2 separate regions of the Homo sapiens genome follow, and region 1 is linked to region 2. A link means that fine-mapping ties the variant in region 2 to the expression of a gene that starts in the linked region. Tissue or cell type: testis. Region 2 holds a variant in brackets; the other region holds the start of a gene. All regions are shown on one strand. Distances are between the middles of the regions.

Region 1 (9,129 bases), 87 kb before region 2:
TGTTACTTTTGGAATATCAAAATCCAGCAGGAAAATGACAGCGTGGATGGTGTCGGCACTCAGACTGAATCACTCAGCACATGTAACTATTAAGTTTGTGTTTGAAGGTTCTGGGTGGGTGCTGTGGGCCGGATCCACACATGCGGTGTGGCAGAGCGCTGCCCTCCTGCTGGGCCCATGGGGGACATGGCCCCCTGGCCACACCCCACGCCAGGACTGAAGGCCAACCCCAGGAAACCCTGACAGTGCTTCCCAGACCCTTTCCTGGCCCAAGGCAAGGAGGATGCCTGGCACCCAGGAGGGCTATGGGCAGATGGGACCCAGAAGATGGGAGCAGGGTGGCAGTGGAGGCCTTGGCAGGGGCTTCCAGAGAGGCTAGAGCTGGAGGTTGCAGCAGGGCAGCTGCCTCCTTTCCCTGCTGTCTGGAGTGACCCCGCAGGGTCTCAAACCCAGTGCCACATGGTCCTCACACAGTCCTGCTTTGTGCTCCTGGGGTCCCTGGCCTCACTGGGGCTGGGGATGGAGCATCTGAGGAGCAGAGGGCTGGCTGGGCCGGGGGTACCATCCATGTCCAACCGGCTGGCACAGGCCCCACAGCCAGGGCTCGGCCCAGCCAAGCACTCACACTTCTCCAAGCTGACCTCTGGGGGAGCCCTCGTTGGAGCTCCATCCTGCTCCTCCCGGACTTGCTCCACACCCCACCTCCTCCTTCTCCCAACATCCGCCTGGACGGGGTGGCCTCCAACTCTTCCCCGGCCTGCAAAATGTTTTCCCTGCCTGGATCTTCAACCTGGCCTTCAACCTGCTGGCCCCTTTCTCACTCAGCTCCTGCCCCTTTCCAGCCGGCTGGAGGTCTGCGGGGCTTCTTCTCCAGGGCTCAGGGCCTCCTCTGGGCACTCGAAGGGCCAACCGCACCTGCCCTGGTGTGGCCAAGTGGCCCGTGGGGGTTGGCAGAGGCCTTTTGCCGCGTCACCACCTTCTGCCACTGGAACGGAGCCTGGGTGGCTCCTGGCCAGCAGCCTGTGACTCCCATCCCAGCTGGGCAGCCCTGGCCTGGCTCACACACCCTGAGTGGGCACCACCCTGAAGCCCTCCAGCAGATGCCCACTTTCCCTTCCCCTGGCCCAGCTCACACACCCTGAGTGGGCACCACCCTCAACTCCTCCAGCAGATGCCCACTTTCCCTTCCCTAGGCCACTTGTCACTCTGACCTGGGGCTGTCACCAACCTTGTCTATTTCCCCCAAGTTGTGGCTGGGCCCCCCCACCCCCAGGTTAGGGCCTAGACAAGTGTGAGAGCTGAGAAGCAGTCACTGCATGTGTGGCTGGATGTAACAAGTAACAACAGGGACAGGCAGAGACAGAGAGAGACGGACACAGAGAGACAGAGACAGACACAGAGACAGAGAGATACAGCGACAGAGAAAGAAAAGACAGAAAGACAGAGACAGAGATAGAAAGAGACAGAGAGACAAAAAGACACAGAGACAGATACAGTGACAGAGAAAGACAGAGACAGAAAGATAGAGACAGAGAGACGGGCAGAAAGACACAGTGACAGAGAGATACAGCGACGGAGAAAGAGACAGAGAGAGAGGCAGAGGAAGACAGGGCAGAACGTGAGGGCTGGCAGAGGGTCTCTGTCCTCTGTGCCCCAGGCCCCAGCTCCAGGTGTGCTTGGAGCTCAGGCTGGCCTGGGTTGTAGAACGGGGAGGGGTCAGCCTAGGAGTCCAGTGCTTCTGCTCGGAAGAACGGGCACCTCCCTGCACTCCTGTGCAGACTGTCCCAAAGGCACCAGCATATCCCTTGCATGCAGCTTGTGGAGGTGGCAGGGTCAGTCATGAGCCTGGCTCTGGGCTCAGGGGGTCACCCCTGGGGTCCTCTCTGGGGTTACTGTCCGGGTTAGCTGTTGGGTTATCCACCCAGTTAGGGATGGAGAGAGAAAGCACCAGGGCCGAGAAGTGACCTCTTTCTTGGACCCGAACATCTCACCCTTGCTGTCCCCTCCCAGGTCCTGAGGAGACTAGAGGAGCAGATGGAGCAGAGCAGGCTGGGGCTCAGGCCGGGCCCCCAGGCATGTGTCCTGCCTCCTGTCCCTGGGCCCAACGTTCTGAGCCCACTTGGCTCAGATCCCGGGAGAGAGGAAGGGACGGTGCTGGGGGTGCCCATGGCTTCCAGCCAGGGAGGCTGAAGAGACCCCAATCCTAGGGCATGGGTCCCCCTCTGGGAGGTTGCCTGTGAACCCCCAGGCCCACGGGACCCTCATGGCTGTCTCAGGGAGCCCCCATGGGCTTGGCCCTGGTGCCTTCACCCTTCCCTCTCCCCCAGCGCTCCCTTCCTCTGCGAAGGGTCCCCTGCCAAGTCAGCAGAAGAGTGGGGACGGGGGCAGAGGCGCTGGGGCCAAGGCTGGGAGTCCAGGCCTCTGAGTCCTCCTGAGCTCAGGCTAAACACGGGGCACCGGAGGGGATGGGGCTGAGGGCGGGGGAGGGGCCGCATCTTCCCTGCGCCAGGGGAGTCCCCAGGACTCAGCAGGGAGGGGACAGTGACAAGTTAGTGCGGCGGCCACCGGCAGCGGCCCCCCTCCCCCCTCCCCACCCCCACCCCGCCAGGAGCACAGGGCAGCTCTAGGGTCGCGGTGCGCCCCATCCCTCCCGCCGCCTGGCTCCCGACACTGCACAGCGCGAACCGCAGGGCCGACCTTGCGGCGACCCCGCTCTCCCGCAGTGCCGCGTCCGCTGCAGAGGAAATCCCGGGGGCCAGGGGAGGGAGCGGTGGGGTCTCTGGCCTTCGTCCCGGTAAAGGAAACAGCGACTCCGTTACACCGAAAGTGAGCCCGGGCCGGCCTGCGGGTCTCTGGCTGCGAGGGGCTTGCGTGGGTTTTCAGGGGTCTGGGGGCCCCCTTCTCCCGCCCTGCGATACGGGGAGGTCGGGGCAGAGGGGTCGGGGCGGCGGGCGGCGCTCAGGGACACGGTCACCGGAGAATGGGGGCGGCAGCGACTCCCAACCCCTGGCCCCTCCGCTCGGGAGGCAGCGACTTCTCCGCCCGAGGGTTTTGCACCCACCGGCCCCGCGCGGACCCTGTAGGGAGCAGGCCCGCACCGTCGGGCTGGGGGCGGGGGGGCAGAGCCGGGGGCGCCCAGATCAGGGGCGGGCGGGGGTCGCAGGCGCCCGCCGGGGGAAGGTCGAGCCCGGGCCGGGTTGGAGGGAGGCGGGGGCGCGTCACTCGGGTCCACCCCCGCCCCCGCCCCCGGGTCCACCCCCGCCCCCGCCCCGGGTCCACCCCCCGCCCCCGCCCCCGCCCCCCGCCCCCGCCCCCGGGTCCACCCCCGCCCCCGCCCCGGGTCCACCCCCCGCCCCCGCCCCGGGTCCGCCCCCCGCCCCCGCCCCCCGCCCCCGCCCCCGGGTCCACCCCCCGCCCCCGCCCCGGGTCCACCCCCCGCCCCCCGCCCCCGGGTCCGCCTCCGCCCCCGCCCCCGGGTCCACCCCCGCCCCCGCCCGGCGCCCGCGGCCCCGCCCCTCGGCGCTCCCCTCCCCGTGCTCGTCACGCTCGGACGCGGGCGGGGGGCGGGGAGCGCCTGCGAGTGACGCGCCCTCCTCGCGGTGCCCTTCAGCCGCCGCCGCAGCTCACCGGGCGCCACATGGACCCAGCCGGCCCGAGCGCGCCCCGCCGCTGACCGCCCGCGCCCCGGGAAGGTAACCGCGCCCCGAGCGCAGCGCGCGCCCGGCCTCCGCTCCCCGGGTCTCCCCTCCCGGCCCCGGCGTCTCCTCCCCGGCCCCCGCTTCTCCCCGCTTCTCCCGCCGGCCCCGGTTTCTCCTTCCCGGCCCCCCTTCTCCCCGCGGCCCCGGCTTCGCCCAGCTCCTCCCCCCGGCCTCCGCTCCCCGGGTCTCTCCTCCCCGGCTCCGGCTTCTCCCCCCGGCTCCGGCCTCTCCCTCCGGCCCCCGTTTCTCCCCCCGACCCCGGCTTCTCCCCGCAGCCCCCGTTTCTCTCCCGGGCTCCGCGCGCGCGGGGTCCGGGGCGGGCGCTGTCCACTGCCGCGGTGCTGAAGCGGCCCCCGCGGTCCCGGCCCGCGCCCGGCCTCCTCCTCGCTTCTTCCTGTCTCGAGGCTCCCCCTCTCCTCCCTCGCCCTCTTTCTTTCCTCTCCTGGCGCGCTCCCGCCTGAGGGCCGCTCGCCCGCCCGCAAAGCCGAGGGGTGCGGGTGCGGCGGGGCCGGAGCCCTGCGGGTCTGCGGGGCCCGGCCGTGCCCTCCTTCCCCGCGCCGCGGGAGCCAGGGGAGAAGTTTGGAGGAGAATCGGCGCTGCGGCAAAGCCTCCGAGGGGCGCTCCCCGCCCGCCGCCCTCCCAGTCCCCGCGCGAGTCTCCTTCCTCTGCGGAGGGCGAGGGGTGAACCGTCAAACAGTGTCTCTCCAGGGACCTGGGGTTCCCCGATAGGAGAGACCCCGCAAAACCGGGGGGCTCACTGCGGCTGCTGTGATTTCAGAAAGCGGCTTCCCAAGAGGGGACCAGAGCGCCCCACCCCACCCCATGCACGCCCCCGGGGCGGGGGTGCTCTGTCCCCGTCCCCACGTGTTTCCTGAAGGCTGAGCCCCCTGAAGTTTCTCCCCAACCCCGATCTCTTCTACGCGGGCCATGTGGGGGGCACACTGACTGCAGTGCCGTCAGGGATAGGGTCACCCAAGCCTCCCTGGTCAGAAGCCACAGGAGCCCGCCCTGAAGGGTACCCGCTCAAAGACCCACCCCCAACCCTTCTCCACGGCCCTGGGCTCGGGACCACCGCGGAGGCGCCGCTCCAGACACTGAGCTGCAGAGCGGAGCAGTCACCTTCAAACGCCCCCTGGGCCCCGCCCCTGCTTCCGCAGCCTGGCGCCAGGCGCCTCTGAGCGATGCCCCCTAAGCCATCAGCAGCCCTCCCTGCAGAGGCTTCAGACACCCCAGGAGCTGGGGAGACCATTTTCAGGTCCTCTGGGGTCCTGGTTTGGGTGTGGGGACAGAAGCCCCTCACGAAGGACTTCCCAGGCAGCCGCTCCAGGTGGGGGAGGGTCCAGCCCACAAGGTATTGCGGGTAAGGAATGATGGTCTCTGGGGAAGGCCAGGCAGGGGCCTGCTTAGGGTGACCTGTGACCACTTCACTCTCCCCCAGGAAGAACACTCGCTCCCGGCCATACTTGCGTGTGAGTTCTGACCCCTGGAGGAGCCACTGTGGAAGCAGAGCAATCGCCATGGAGTTTGTGATGAAGCAGGCTCTAGGAGGTAGGAAGCGGGAGGTGGGGTGGGGAGGGGCTGAGGGGACATGGAGAGACCACCACAGCAGCTGCTCCTCATCTGGCCCACCGCAGCAGCGCCCCTGCAGCCACACGGCCACCCACGCAGCCCTGCACAGGAGCCTGGGGCAGAGGAGCAAGGACCGTGCCCAGCAGCGCCCCCAGCCCGGCCCTTTTCGAGGCCCCGAGCCAGAACTGGTGTTCCTGGCGGGACAGGGGCTGCCCTGTAAGCTCACTCTGCCCCACTGCTGTGGTCGGGGCAGAGCCCATGGACCATGCTGATGCACGTCCTGGGGGAGGGTGCACACTCTGGCGTAGGCTTTACAGGGCCAATTCTAACTGGCCAGGCTGGGCAGCCCCCAAGGGGGCTTCCTTCCAGATGAGGAGAGCCAAGCGGTGGGAGAGCAGGATGCAGGTGGCAGCCTCAGGGACAGGCGTGGGGACAGAGCTGGCCTGTGCATCTGGCGAGGACCCTGTGGGTTTCACTTGGGTGAGGCAGCGCCATCCTCAGGGACCAGGGCTTGCTGGTTACGGGAGCGAAGGAAAAGGCCCGAAACAGCTTGTGTGTCTCGACTGCCTCCCAGGCGGGACGTGCAGCCTTTTTTGTGTGTACTGGGGTGGGGCCAGGCCCCCTTCCAACCTGCTGTCTGCTATTTGAAAGGAACCTCGTCCCCACTTGACCCAAGGCTGTCATTGTGGCCAGAGACCATGTCAAGAGCAGTGGCTGGGTTCCTAGACCAGGAGGTGGGCAGGGCCTGGGCCATGCTGGTACAGACGTGTCCCGGCAGAGCTGATGGGTCAACTCAGGCCTCGGGGCTGTCGTGGCGAGTCTCAGTTTTGCCCAGAGCCGTCCATCCTGTGTTCCCCCAGCACCAGTGCCCAGAACTCCTGTGAGGGGAACCTGTGGCCGGTGCCCGATTCTACCACTAGAGACGTCTTGCTTGGGTGGCCTCCACGGGGGAGCACCCTCACCTGATGCCATTCACACCTTGGAGTGAGTCAGGCCTCCTGGGAGCATTTCTGCAGTGGGGGAGCTGGCCGGGTTCGAGGGGCCAGGGACAAGGGTGTACAGAGGGCAGGCGCCGCTTCCCCCAGGGCAGGAGCTGCCTGCCTGGCTGTCTCCCGGAGGGTGGCTGTGCTTCCACTCAACACAAATTAAATGAAAAGATATTGAGCCTGTCCTGGGGCCACATCCCTGAGATTTCGTGGTCAAGGGTAAGAGTCAGGTTGAGTCTAATTATAATGGCTGCGTCACCGGGCTGTGATTCAGGGACAAGCCTGCATCTGCGCTGGGAGGGACGCACGTTCCACCCAGGGAGTCCCAGGCTGTTACGGATAATTAATTAGTTGGCTAATTCAGGCCCTGAGGTGGGCTTGTAAGAAACTGAAATATCTTATTTGGCTGTCTACATGACTGAAATTAGCTGGGTAATTACCAGCCTGAATTCCCTTTTTGTTTCATGGCAGCCCAAAGTTTCTCCAGCAGCAGCAACCGGGCAGGCGTCGCTCAGCGTGGTGGAGCTGAGCGGGGGCAGCCAGCAGACCCTGGGGGGGCTCCACGCTGAGTGCTTCCCAGAGCACCCCACATTGGCTTTGCAGAGCACGTTGAGGCTCGGAGCCAGAGCTGCTGAGGGCGGGAGCTGGTGGGGGGCTTCCAGTCGAGACCTTGTTTTCTGCCTCTGCGCCTCTGTCCCTCACCCGGCGAGCCTCATTGTTGCTGTCTCAGGATGCGTGTGAGTGAGACAGAGCAAGACAGAGATGGGAAATGGGGGAACCTCCAGACAGCACGACAGAGCTTGGCAGAGACCCCAAGAGAACTATTGAGAAACAGACCAAGCCCCGGACACAAAGAAGCTGGCAGGAGAGGGAGCAGGAGGCACCCAGGAAGCCGTTCAAAGAAAGGCGAACCCAGAAACAGGGTCGGGGAGGGGGAGCTGGAGAAAGAAAATGACAGCCCAGAAACAGACAGAGAAAAAGACAAGAATGTGTTATTCAGCACGCACAGGGACAGACAGGTGAAAACAGAGACGGCACGTCAGAGACAGAGGCAGAGGGGAGAGAGAGAAAGAGGGAGAGACGGAGACAGAGATAGAGGGAGACACAGAGACAGAGGGAGACAGAGACAGGGAGAAACAGAGACAGGGAGAGATGGGAGCAGAGGGAGAGACAGAGGGATACAGAGAGACAGACAGACAAAGGAAGAGGGCAGAGAGAGGCAGAGGGAGAGGTGGAGGCAGAAGGAGAGAGAGAGACAGAGAGAGTTAGAGAGATAGAGATGGAGACAGAGACAGAGGGAGAGACAGAGATGGGGAGAGACGGAGAATCAGAAACAGAGGGAGAGACAGTGGTGAGAGGGAGAGACAGAGACAGAGGGAGAGACAGAGACAGAGGGAGAGACAGTGGGGAGAGAGACGCATTAGAAATGAACTGCTAAGAGGAGTCAGGGCCAGGAGCGCAGGCAGCATGGCACATGCACACGTGCACGCCCGTCAGAGGGTGCAGCAGAGAGGAGGAAGAGGTGAGGACCTGCCCAGGGCTCTGGGCAGGGGGACAGGCCTGGTTAAATCAAGACCATTCGGGGGCTGTCCGCGGCAGGCTGGGCCGCAGGTGTGAGTCTTGCTGAGGAGTGAGTGGCCCAGGGCCTGCTCATCTGACCCAACGCTGGGTCTCAAGGAGGGGCCCCTGTTGGGGCCACCAAGGGAAGGGAGCATGGTGGCTGCCGGGGTGATCGCTCGTGGGGGAGCGGGAGGCTCCTCTGCAGCAAAAGTGGCCTTGAACTGGGGCCGGGCCTCCCCCCACAACACGTGGGTCCGGATCCAGGGTCCTCAAGGGAGTAATTTAAAGAAACTGGTTTCCTCAGGCCAGAAAGTTGCAAACACGGCCTGGGAGCTCTGTGGACAGCGTGGAGGAACGTGGCACGTGTGGGTGCCGTGGTCACTGCAGACCCTCATGGGGCTAAATGTGGCAGAAGCGAGCAGCCACCCGCTCTCCCATCCTCCGCCTTGATGTGACACACGCCCTGTTTAAACACGCTCAGGTCCTCGGGAATGTGTGGGGCAGGCGGGCCGGGGCTTCAGGTGGGACACGGCTTGGAGGATGCATGTGCGGAGAGGCTGGGGTGCAGAGTGGGAGGCAGCCGGACACTCAGGAGAGCCTCTGACTGCCCCAGCGACAGAGCCCAAGGCAGGACTCACCCATGCTCGGCTCTGCCACGTGTGGGGAGGTCTAGCGGGCAGGTCCAGTGACTCCGGTGGTTCAGTCACGATGGACAGTGTCCGGCAGTGAATGCCCCTCACCCAGCCAGGCCCAACCTGGGGGGCGACAGCCTGGCCTGGGTTCAGTGGAGAAGCTGTCCTTGTCCCCGGAGAGTGGTACGCTGTTGGGTTCTGTGTCCAGTCCTACATGGGGAGGGAAGCAGGTGAACATCTGGGGAGAACACACCGTAGGGGTGCGGTCCTGGGTTTGGCGTGAGGGGGAGGATTGTGGTCATCCAAGCCGGGGTGGACGAGAAGTGTCTCGTGGACGGCCCAGGCAGGAAGTGCAGGGTTCCACCGTGTGGGAGAGCCCCTCCGCGCCCCCGTGGGGCTGGGCTGTGAGTTCTCGGCAGGAACAACCCAAGGGGCTTGTGGGGGCCACCGGTGTCCACCTTGGGGGTTCACGCGAGGCTGGTGAGGGGTGTCCACCTTGGGGGTTCACGTGAGGCTGGTGAGGGGTGTCCACCTTGGGGGTTCACGTGAGGCTGGTGAGGGGTGCAGTTGGGAAAGAATCTCCCTCTGTGAGCAGAGACCACCAGAGCCAGGAGTCCAGGCCAGGGATGCCCTGAGCCACAATGCAGCCAACACCAGCATCTCCCCCAGCCCTCCACGGGGATG
Region 2 (8,000 bases):
CCAAACTTTTTATCCACGATTTCCTCCCTACATACCATGAGCTCGGCCAGGCCAGGGAAACGCTCTGGGCATACCCCAACCTACACAGCTGCCTCACAAACACCAACCGTGCAGGGACCAATGCCCGCGTGAGGCAACGAGCTTGGACAGAGAGGAGGATGCCCCGTGAGCCTGGGCAGAGAGAGGAGGGGACCCCGAGAGCCTGGGGAGAGAGGAGGGGACCCTGAGAGCCTGGGCAGAGAGAGGAGGGGACCCCGAGAGCCTGGGGAGAGAGAGAGGAGGGGACCCCGAGAGCCTGGGCAGAGAGAGGAGGGGACCCTGAGAGCCAAGGGGATAGGTGGGGCCGGCCGCAGGTGGATGGAGTGCTGGAGCCTCACAAGGGAAATGCTGAAAGATTAGCCTGGAGAATCTGAGAGCAGCTTGAAAGAAAATGTTTCCCTTAAATAATCACATCCCAGCAGCTGGAATGGAGGCCTGCAAGACAGGGGCTGACAGCAGGAGGCTGTTCCCATCAGTCTGCAGAAGAGCCGTGACGGGAACAACAGGCCACATAGGTCCGTGCAAAGGAGAGAGCCCCACGGACACAGTGGAAAGCAACTCAGCTTCAGACCCTGACCCTTGGCTCTAGTTCCCATTTCTTTAATTTTCACCTGTAAGAATAAAGAAGGATTAAAAATAGCAGCACTCAGTGTCAGGTGTATACAGGCACTGAAACATTTATTGGGGCCGGGCGCGGTGGCTCACACCTGTCATCCCAGCACTGTGGGAGGCTGAGGCGGGCGGATCATGAGGTCAGGAGTTCGAGACCAGCCTGGCCAACATGGTGAAACCCCCGTCTCTACTAAAAATACAAAAAATTAGCCAGGCATGGTGGCACCTGCCTGTAATCCCAGCTACTCAGGAGGCTGAGACAGGACAACTGTGTGAACCTGGGAGGCGGAGGTTGCAGTGAGCTGAGATCGTGCCACTGCACTCAGCCTGGGCAACAAGAGCAAAACTCCGTCTCAAAAATGATTGAATAAATAAATAAATAAGAGCTCACTGTCTCTGGACATTGCTCTTGAGCTGCGGCAGTCCAGCCTGATCTGAGGAGCTCACTGTTGGCATAACGCTAACGAATCAGCCAATTGGAAGCTTATTCTGACTACAGCCATATCTTCATTTTCACTTCTGAGAAGAAATTCTGCTGTGATGAGACATTCCATTTTAAATTTTCAGCATTTTGTAAACACTGCTTTCCTGTGAGTAGGGAATATTGCTGGTGTCTAAATACTGCTTTCCTGTGAGTGGGGATATTGCTGGTGTTGAGTCAGTGACTCCATCGTCGGCTGTTTGCTCTCAGCATAGCTACAGTATGACGGATGAGAAAGTCGGTGCTTTGCCATCAACAATGACAGTTCAACAACAAAATAATCCAGAGTTCACTGCGGCTTCGAAGTGCAGCCCTGAAAGTCCCCTTTTCTCCTTTCCTCGTTCTGACGTCGTCATGAAAACGTCCCAATGCAGTGACGATGAGTTCCAGCCACGGTGCAGAGGGCTGCCCAAAGCCACCGGCAGGCAGGCAGCACACTCCTGGCACACACTCAGCTGCACCACGGACGGGCTTACGGGTGAAGGCGACCACAGCTGAGCCAGTGGGGCTGGTTCCAACCAGGCTACGCACCATGAAATTTCAATTCTTAAATTATCACATCATAAAATACGCTGCTTTTGATTTTTTCCAACTATTTAAAAATGTAAAGAAACATTCTTAGCTCATGGGATCCTCCTGCCTCGGCCTCCCACAGTGCTAGGGTTACAGGCATGAGACACTGTGTCCGGCCCCCACGTTTCTAAAGCAAGAGGTGACAGGCATGTTCAGGATCCATGGAAAGAGGACTGGTGAGTGCGTGAGCCCCACAGCCCTCACCAGGAACGGACAGGAGCCTGGCACACCAAAGACCATGACACGCCCACCGAGTGAAAGAGCCCAGAGTGGGCTGAGACTGAGAATGGACACTTTGATAAATGTTTTAAACATGTTGCCTCTACGAAGACAGGTTTCTAAAATAATTTATAAAAACAAAAAGAAACAACAAACCACTAAAAACCTAACCCCACCTCTGATCTAGCAGGGAACTCTCTTCCAGCAAGCCCCCACCATGTGGGGGTGCGGGGACAGCGTTGAGGGCCTGCCCGGAGTCCAGGTGGGAGGGGCAGGACCGTGTTGGCGTCTCCTCCAAAACAGACACCTGGACCCTCAAGGGCTGACACCTCGCCTCACCACTGCATCCTCGCAGCTAACGCGCGTTTCAGGAAGAGGCCTCTGGTCGGAGAAATGAGGTTTGCAATTGTCTGCACCACAGATAAAACTAAACAAATTGCAAGTAGCCTCCATCAAGAAAATAGGTGCACTGCTAATAGTTTTAAAGTTAGAATCCTCCTGCTAAAGAGCCACAAATGACTGAAAGCTTGAGAAACAACAAGAAAAAGAATATTGACTCAACGGAAAATATGGTGGCCAGAGACAGGAGCTGGTCAGGGAGGCGGCTCGGGGCCACCGTGCCCTGGGGGTGTCAATCTGGAGCACTCCGGAACCTCTTGCCTCTCGACTTCTTCAACGTAGAGTGGAGTTGGCAGCGTCCACACCGGACAAGAGCGTGCTGAGGTGGACGAGAACATACAACCTGCTCCAGGCTGGACGCACACTCCAACTAACACGTGGAGACGAGCGATGGAACGGAGGTGGCATGCAGATCTCAGTGCCACCCGGCTCAGCACATGGACGACACCTGCCCTGATGGATGCCCAGAAGCGGGCTTCCCAAAAACACGGGTGGAACGCACCCAGGTCCACTGCCGCAGGACAACCCAGGACAATGGGAAGGCAGAGGCAGGAACCAGAAGGAGGCCCGTGAGTCAGTGGTATTCTCTGGATCCTGATTGGAATAAACAAAAACAGGCTGGGTGTGGGGGCTCACACCTGTAATCCCAGCACTTTGGGAGGCCAAGGCAGGAGGACTGCTTGAGCCCAGGAGTTCAAGACCAGCCTGGGCAACACAGCAAAACCCTATCCCTACAAAAAATTAGCCAGGATGGAGGTGCTTGCCTGTAGTTCCAGCTACCTGGCAGGCTGAGGTGGGAGAATCACTGGAGCCCGGGAGGTTGAGGCTACAGTGAGCTGTGATAGCACCACTGAACTCCAGCCTGGGCAGCAGAGACCAGGTCTCAAAATAAATAAAGAAATAAACAACAACCAAAAAGCACCGCATTTATGAGACAACTAGAAATGTCAGCACTGAGTGGCTATTTGGTATTAAGGAATCTCTACTATTTTCCTAAACATTATCAAGGTATTGTGGTTATGAGCTTTAAGAAGAACCCTTATCTTTTGGGGATACGTACTGCAGCCTTTACAGATCAAAGGCCACGGGGTGAGGCTGAGGGAGCAGCAGGTGCAGCAAGGACGGCCACGCCTAGAAACTGCTGGCGGGGGGTGGTGGTCACAAAACTCGAGGTTCCTGCCCCGATCCCGCCCACTGCTAAGCGTTTGAAACGCTCCAGTGCACACTTTATTTATTTATTTATTTTTTTGAGACGGAGTCTTGCTCTGTCGCCCAGCCTGGAGTGCAGTGGCGCGATCTCAGCTCACTGCAACCTCTGCCTCCCGGGTTCAAGCGATTCTCCTGCCTCAGCCTGCTGAGTAGCTGGGATTACAGGCACCTGACACCACGCCCGACTAATTTTTTTTTTTTTTTTGTATTTTTGGTAGAGACAGGGTTTCACTATGTTGGTCTGGCTGGTCTCAAACTCTTGACCTGATGATCCACCCGCCTCGGCCTCCCAAAGTGCTGGGATTACAGGCGTGAGCCACTGCACCCGGCCACAAACGTTTCTTAAAGTGTCAGCACTGGCGGGGGTCACA[A/C]AACTTGGGGTCCCGCCCCGATCCCGCCCACTGCTACGCGTCTGAAACACTCGGTGCAAACGTTTCTTAAGGTGTCAGCATTTAACTCGAATGTATCCTTTGCCTTTTCTCAGGACTAAAAAACTTTCAGATATTAAAAGACTAATTGTTTCTATCTACGTTTACTCAGGAAATCTAAATTCTTCCTGCATGAATGAACTCTGTGAGTAGGGAAGAAGCCTCTAACAGTATGATTCTCTGGGTCACGCATTAAAGGCGAGATACGGTTTCTACGGATCTGGCATATTCAGCTGTGTTTTGAATTCCAACCCTCTTCTGAGATACAGTGAGAACCAGCCCAAGTGAATTCTCAGCTTCTCTATCTGCCTTTGAAAGGTCTGATGAGCAGAATACCAGGACAGCCCACCTGGCGCTGACCTGGCCCCTCCTTGGCCTCCTTGCCGGTCGCCAGCGGAGGGCCACCACCGTGAGAGTGTCGGGAGCTGGGGAGCTTTCAGCTGAGCGATCCCCAAGCAACCGATTTCCACTTTCAGGGTATTTGTACTACTTGGTATTTCTTTTAATTCTAAATGAAATTTGACTTTATGGTGAAGTTTTTCTAGAAACACCAGCTACCCGCTATGCCAACGTGCTGCTCCTCTGTTGTGGGGAAGCTGGCGCTGTGGGATGAGGGGAGGCAGGCCTGGGACAGGAGGTGGGGCCCAGGAAGAAGGCAGGGTCCTGGGAGGGGCAGGAGCTGCGTTGAGCCCTGGGGGTCCCATGTGCTAAACATGCGATCCATACTTGCTGAATGAATACACATAAGGGGTAAAAAGATGTCTACGCATCTTAGACGAAAGAAGAGACCAGCCAAGGAGATGAAGTTGGGCTGAGAGCAGGGATGAGAAGACGGTGATTCGGCCAAAAGGAAAGGGGCCTCCCATCCGAGAACCAAACTTCCAGGAGAGCAGGGGCTGCAGAGGCCAGGCTGGGACCTCAGGGATCAGCAAGACAGTCAGACACTCACCTTCTTGGAGGCCTGGTACCAATTTGTAAACAATATCTTGCATGGTTCTGTCATGACTGGCAAAAGAACAGAAAGGTGGAGTTAGCTGGAAATGTTAATTCTATAATTCTTGTACACTTTCCATTTAACAATATCAAAGTTCAGAATCACCAGTCTGGAGCTTTGTTGGAATTTTACTTCTAGTTTACACATGAAAAAATGTGTCACCAAAAGCCATGTATGAGCTGAATTAACGCGTCATTTAACTTGGGCTCTGGCTGCTTCAAACATTTCAAATAATGACAGAGAAGGCTCTTCTGGGAACCCGTGCTTCTGTCTGCCGGACACCCCAGATTCCCCACGTCCCGTGCGCTCAGGGGACACCGTCCCTGCAGACACCCCAGGTTCCCCGCGTCCCGTGCGCTCAGGGGACACCGTCCCTGCAGACACCCCAGGTTCCCCGCGTCCCGTGCGCTCAGGGGACACCGTCCCTGCAGACACCCCAGGTTCCCCGCGTCCCGTGCGCTCAGGGGACACCGTCCCTGCAGACACCCCAGGTTCCCCGCGTCCCGTGCGCTCAGGGGACACCGTCCCTGCAGACACCCCAGGTTCCCCGCGTCCCGTGCGCTCAGGGGACACCGTCCCTGCAGACACCCCAGGTTCCCCGCGTCCCGTGCGCTCAGGGGACACCGCCCCTGCAGACACCCCAGGTTCCCCGCGACACTGTCCCTGCAGACACCCCAGGTTTCCCGCGTCCCGTGCGCTCAGGGGACACCGTCCCTGCGGACACCCCGGGTTCCCCGCGTCCCGTGCGCTCAGGGGACACCGTCCCTGCGGACACCCCGGGTTCCCTGCATCCTGTGCGCTCAGGAGACACCGTCCCTGTGGACACCACGGGTTCCCTGCATCCTGTGTGCTCAGGGGACACCGTCCCTGCGGACACCCCAGGTTCCCTGCATCCTGTGCGCTCAGGGGACACCGTCCCTGCGGACACCCCAGGTTCCCTGCATCCTATGCGCTCAGGGGACACCGTCCCTGCGGACACCCCGGGTTCCCTGCATCCTATGCGCTCAGGGGACACTGTCCCTGCCCCTCCCACCAAGTGCTTCCTGGGGTCTCCTGGTCTTTGTGGGATTTCCAATGAACAGAGGCTTTTCTAGAATGTTTCCAAATAATGTAAAGAAAAGTCTGTGAGGGCCGGGTGTGGTGGCTCACACCTGTAATCCTAGCATTTGGGGAGACTGAGGCGGGCAGATGACCTGAGATCAGGAGTTTGAAACCAGCCTGGCCAACATGGTGAAACCCTATCTCTACTAAAAATACAAAAATTAGCTGGGCGTGGTGACATGCGCCTGTAATTCCAGCTACTCGGGAGGCTGAGGCAGGAGAATCACTTGAACCCGGGAGGTGGAGGTTGCGGTGAGCTGAGATGGCGCCATTGCACTCCAGCCTGGCGACAGAGCAAGACTCCATCTCAAGAAAAATAAATAAAATTAAGAAAAATAATAATAATAAAAGGGAAAAACAAACACATCTGCCTTTCCTCCTTCAAAATGTGTCTTCAGAATTATCTCTACTACCCTCATGGTACGGGGAGCATTTCCCTTCCTTTGGAGCAACCCCCCAAATCTGAACGACCTCCCAAATCTGTGTGAGAACCACACGCTCCACCTGGCTGGCCCCTTGGCCTCCTGCTGACGTCCAGGCAAGAGTTGCCTTCTCCAGAAATGGTGGCTGGCCCAGGGGTGAGTCCAGGCTCGCTGTGACCCTGGGCAGAAGAGCACAGCGCAGGGAGAAAGACCTTGGCCATGTGTCAGGGGCAGCAGGGCCAGGGCCCCAGGACCATCTGCTCCATGGCAGAAAGGTGAAAGGGGTATCCAAGGGCCGGCTCACATCAAATTTAACTTCAGCAAATTCTGCGTAAAACTCATGAGATTCAACTTGGTCTTGAGGGCTCTCCAACAATTTAACTTGACTAAGTATTTTTTCTTTCTCTTTGAGACAGAGTCTCGCTCTGTCGCCAGGCTGGAGTGCAACGGCGCAATCTCCGCTTACTGCAACCTCGGCCTCCTGGGTTCAAGTGATTCTCCTGCCTCAGCCTCCTGAGTAGATGGGATTATAGGCATGCACCACCATACCCAGCTAATTTTGTACTTTTAGTAGAGATGGGGTTTCTCCACGTTGGTCAGGCTGGTCTCAAACTCCTGACCTCAGGTGATCTGCCTGTGTCGGCCTCCCAAAGTGCTGGGATTATAGGCATGAGCCCCTGCGCCCGGCCTACCTAAGTATTGATGGAAATGTATGTGCAGGCACAGCCTGGGCAGGCCTGGCAGGATGGCCTGGTGAGCGCTGGACCCAGGTTCTTCGTGTGCAGCTCCTGGGGTGCCCTTGGTCAGGAGAGGCTGCTGCCAAGGCAGGATGGGAGTACAGCGCTAATGGCCTGGGAAGGCCCACACACAGAGACGCCCAGGGGCACTCACCCCACGTACTGTGGCCTGGGAAGGCCCACACTCACCCGATGTACTGCAGGGGGTGGCTCTGGTGGATCACAATCCTGCAGGTGGGGCAGGTGTTGTTCTCCTCCAGGTACTTCACCAGGCAGCTCCTGCAGACTGTCATCAAAGCACAGGTGTGTTAGGAGAGCGTCTAGAGCCAGGGCGCCCACCCCATCGGCGTGCTCCACTGAACACGGGCGTCTCTGAGCTCGTTTCTGTGCAGATGCTCACTGCTGTCCTCCTTGTGGCTCTCAGCTTCTGAAAGGAAACATCTTGCCGTTCTGGTCTCAGGAGCAATGAGAAGGTTTTAATTGCCCCGTCAATGGGCTTCCTCAAAGAGGCAGGGTTAGGAATTAAGTGGGAAAAAAACTTAGAATGGGGAGATGATGCTCAAAGGTGACAGAGCTGTGGGTCATCAGAACATGGGCTAAAACAGATAATTTTACAATACTTTGTCCTAAAAGATGACAGTATCTTCTACGTACAACTAGATAAAATCAAATGAAAATAACCTAACATAAAATATGCTAACCAATATCTAAAAATACGATTAACGTTAAAGTCAAAATTCTATCAAATTGGCAAATATTTTATTTCCTAAAGTGAGAAATACACAA

The links. PIP is the estimated chance that this variant, and not a neighbour inherited with it, causes the effect.
Region 1: CPLX1 starts here. The variant in region 2 is fine-mapped to the expression of CPLX1 in testis (GTEx, PIP 0.93).

The regions. Positions count from the first base shown.
Region 1 is chr4:820,609-829,737 of GRCh38, reverse strand. It overlaps CPLX1 (complexin 1), which reads left to right and starts at 3,609. Exons shown (of 4, transcript NM_006651.4): 1 at 3,609-3,692; 2 at 5,137-5,246. The coding sequence starts at 5,216. RefSeq lists a silencer at 3,590-3,639.
Region 2 is chr4:734,431-742,430 of GRCh38, reverse strand. PCGF3 (polycomb group ring finger 3) reads right to left here. Exons shown (of 11, transcript NM_006315.7): 5 at 7,404-7,500; 6 at 4,910-4,965. It overlaps LOC107986246 (a long non-coding RNA gene), which reads right to left and starts at 3,004. Exons shown (of 2, transcript XR_001741543.2): 1 at 2,487-3,004; 2 at 692-1,724. The variant A/C (reference allele first, on the strand shown) is at 3,904.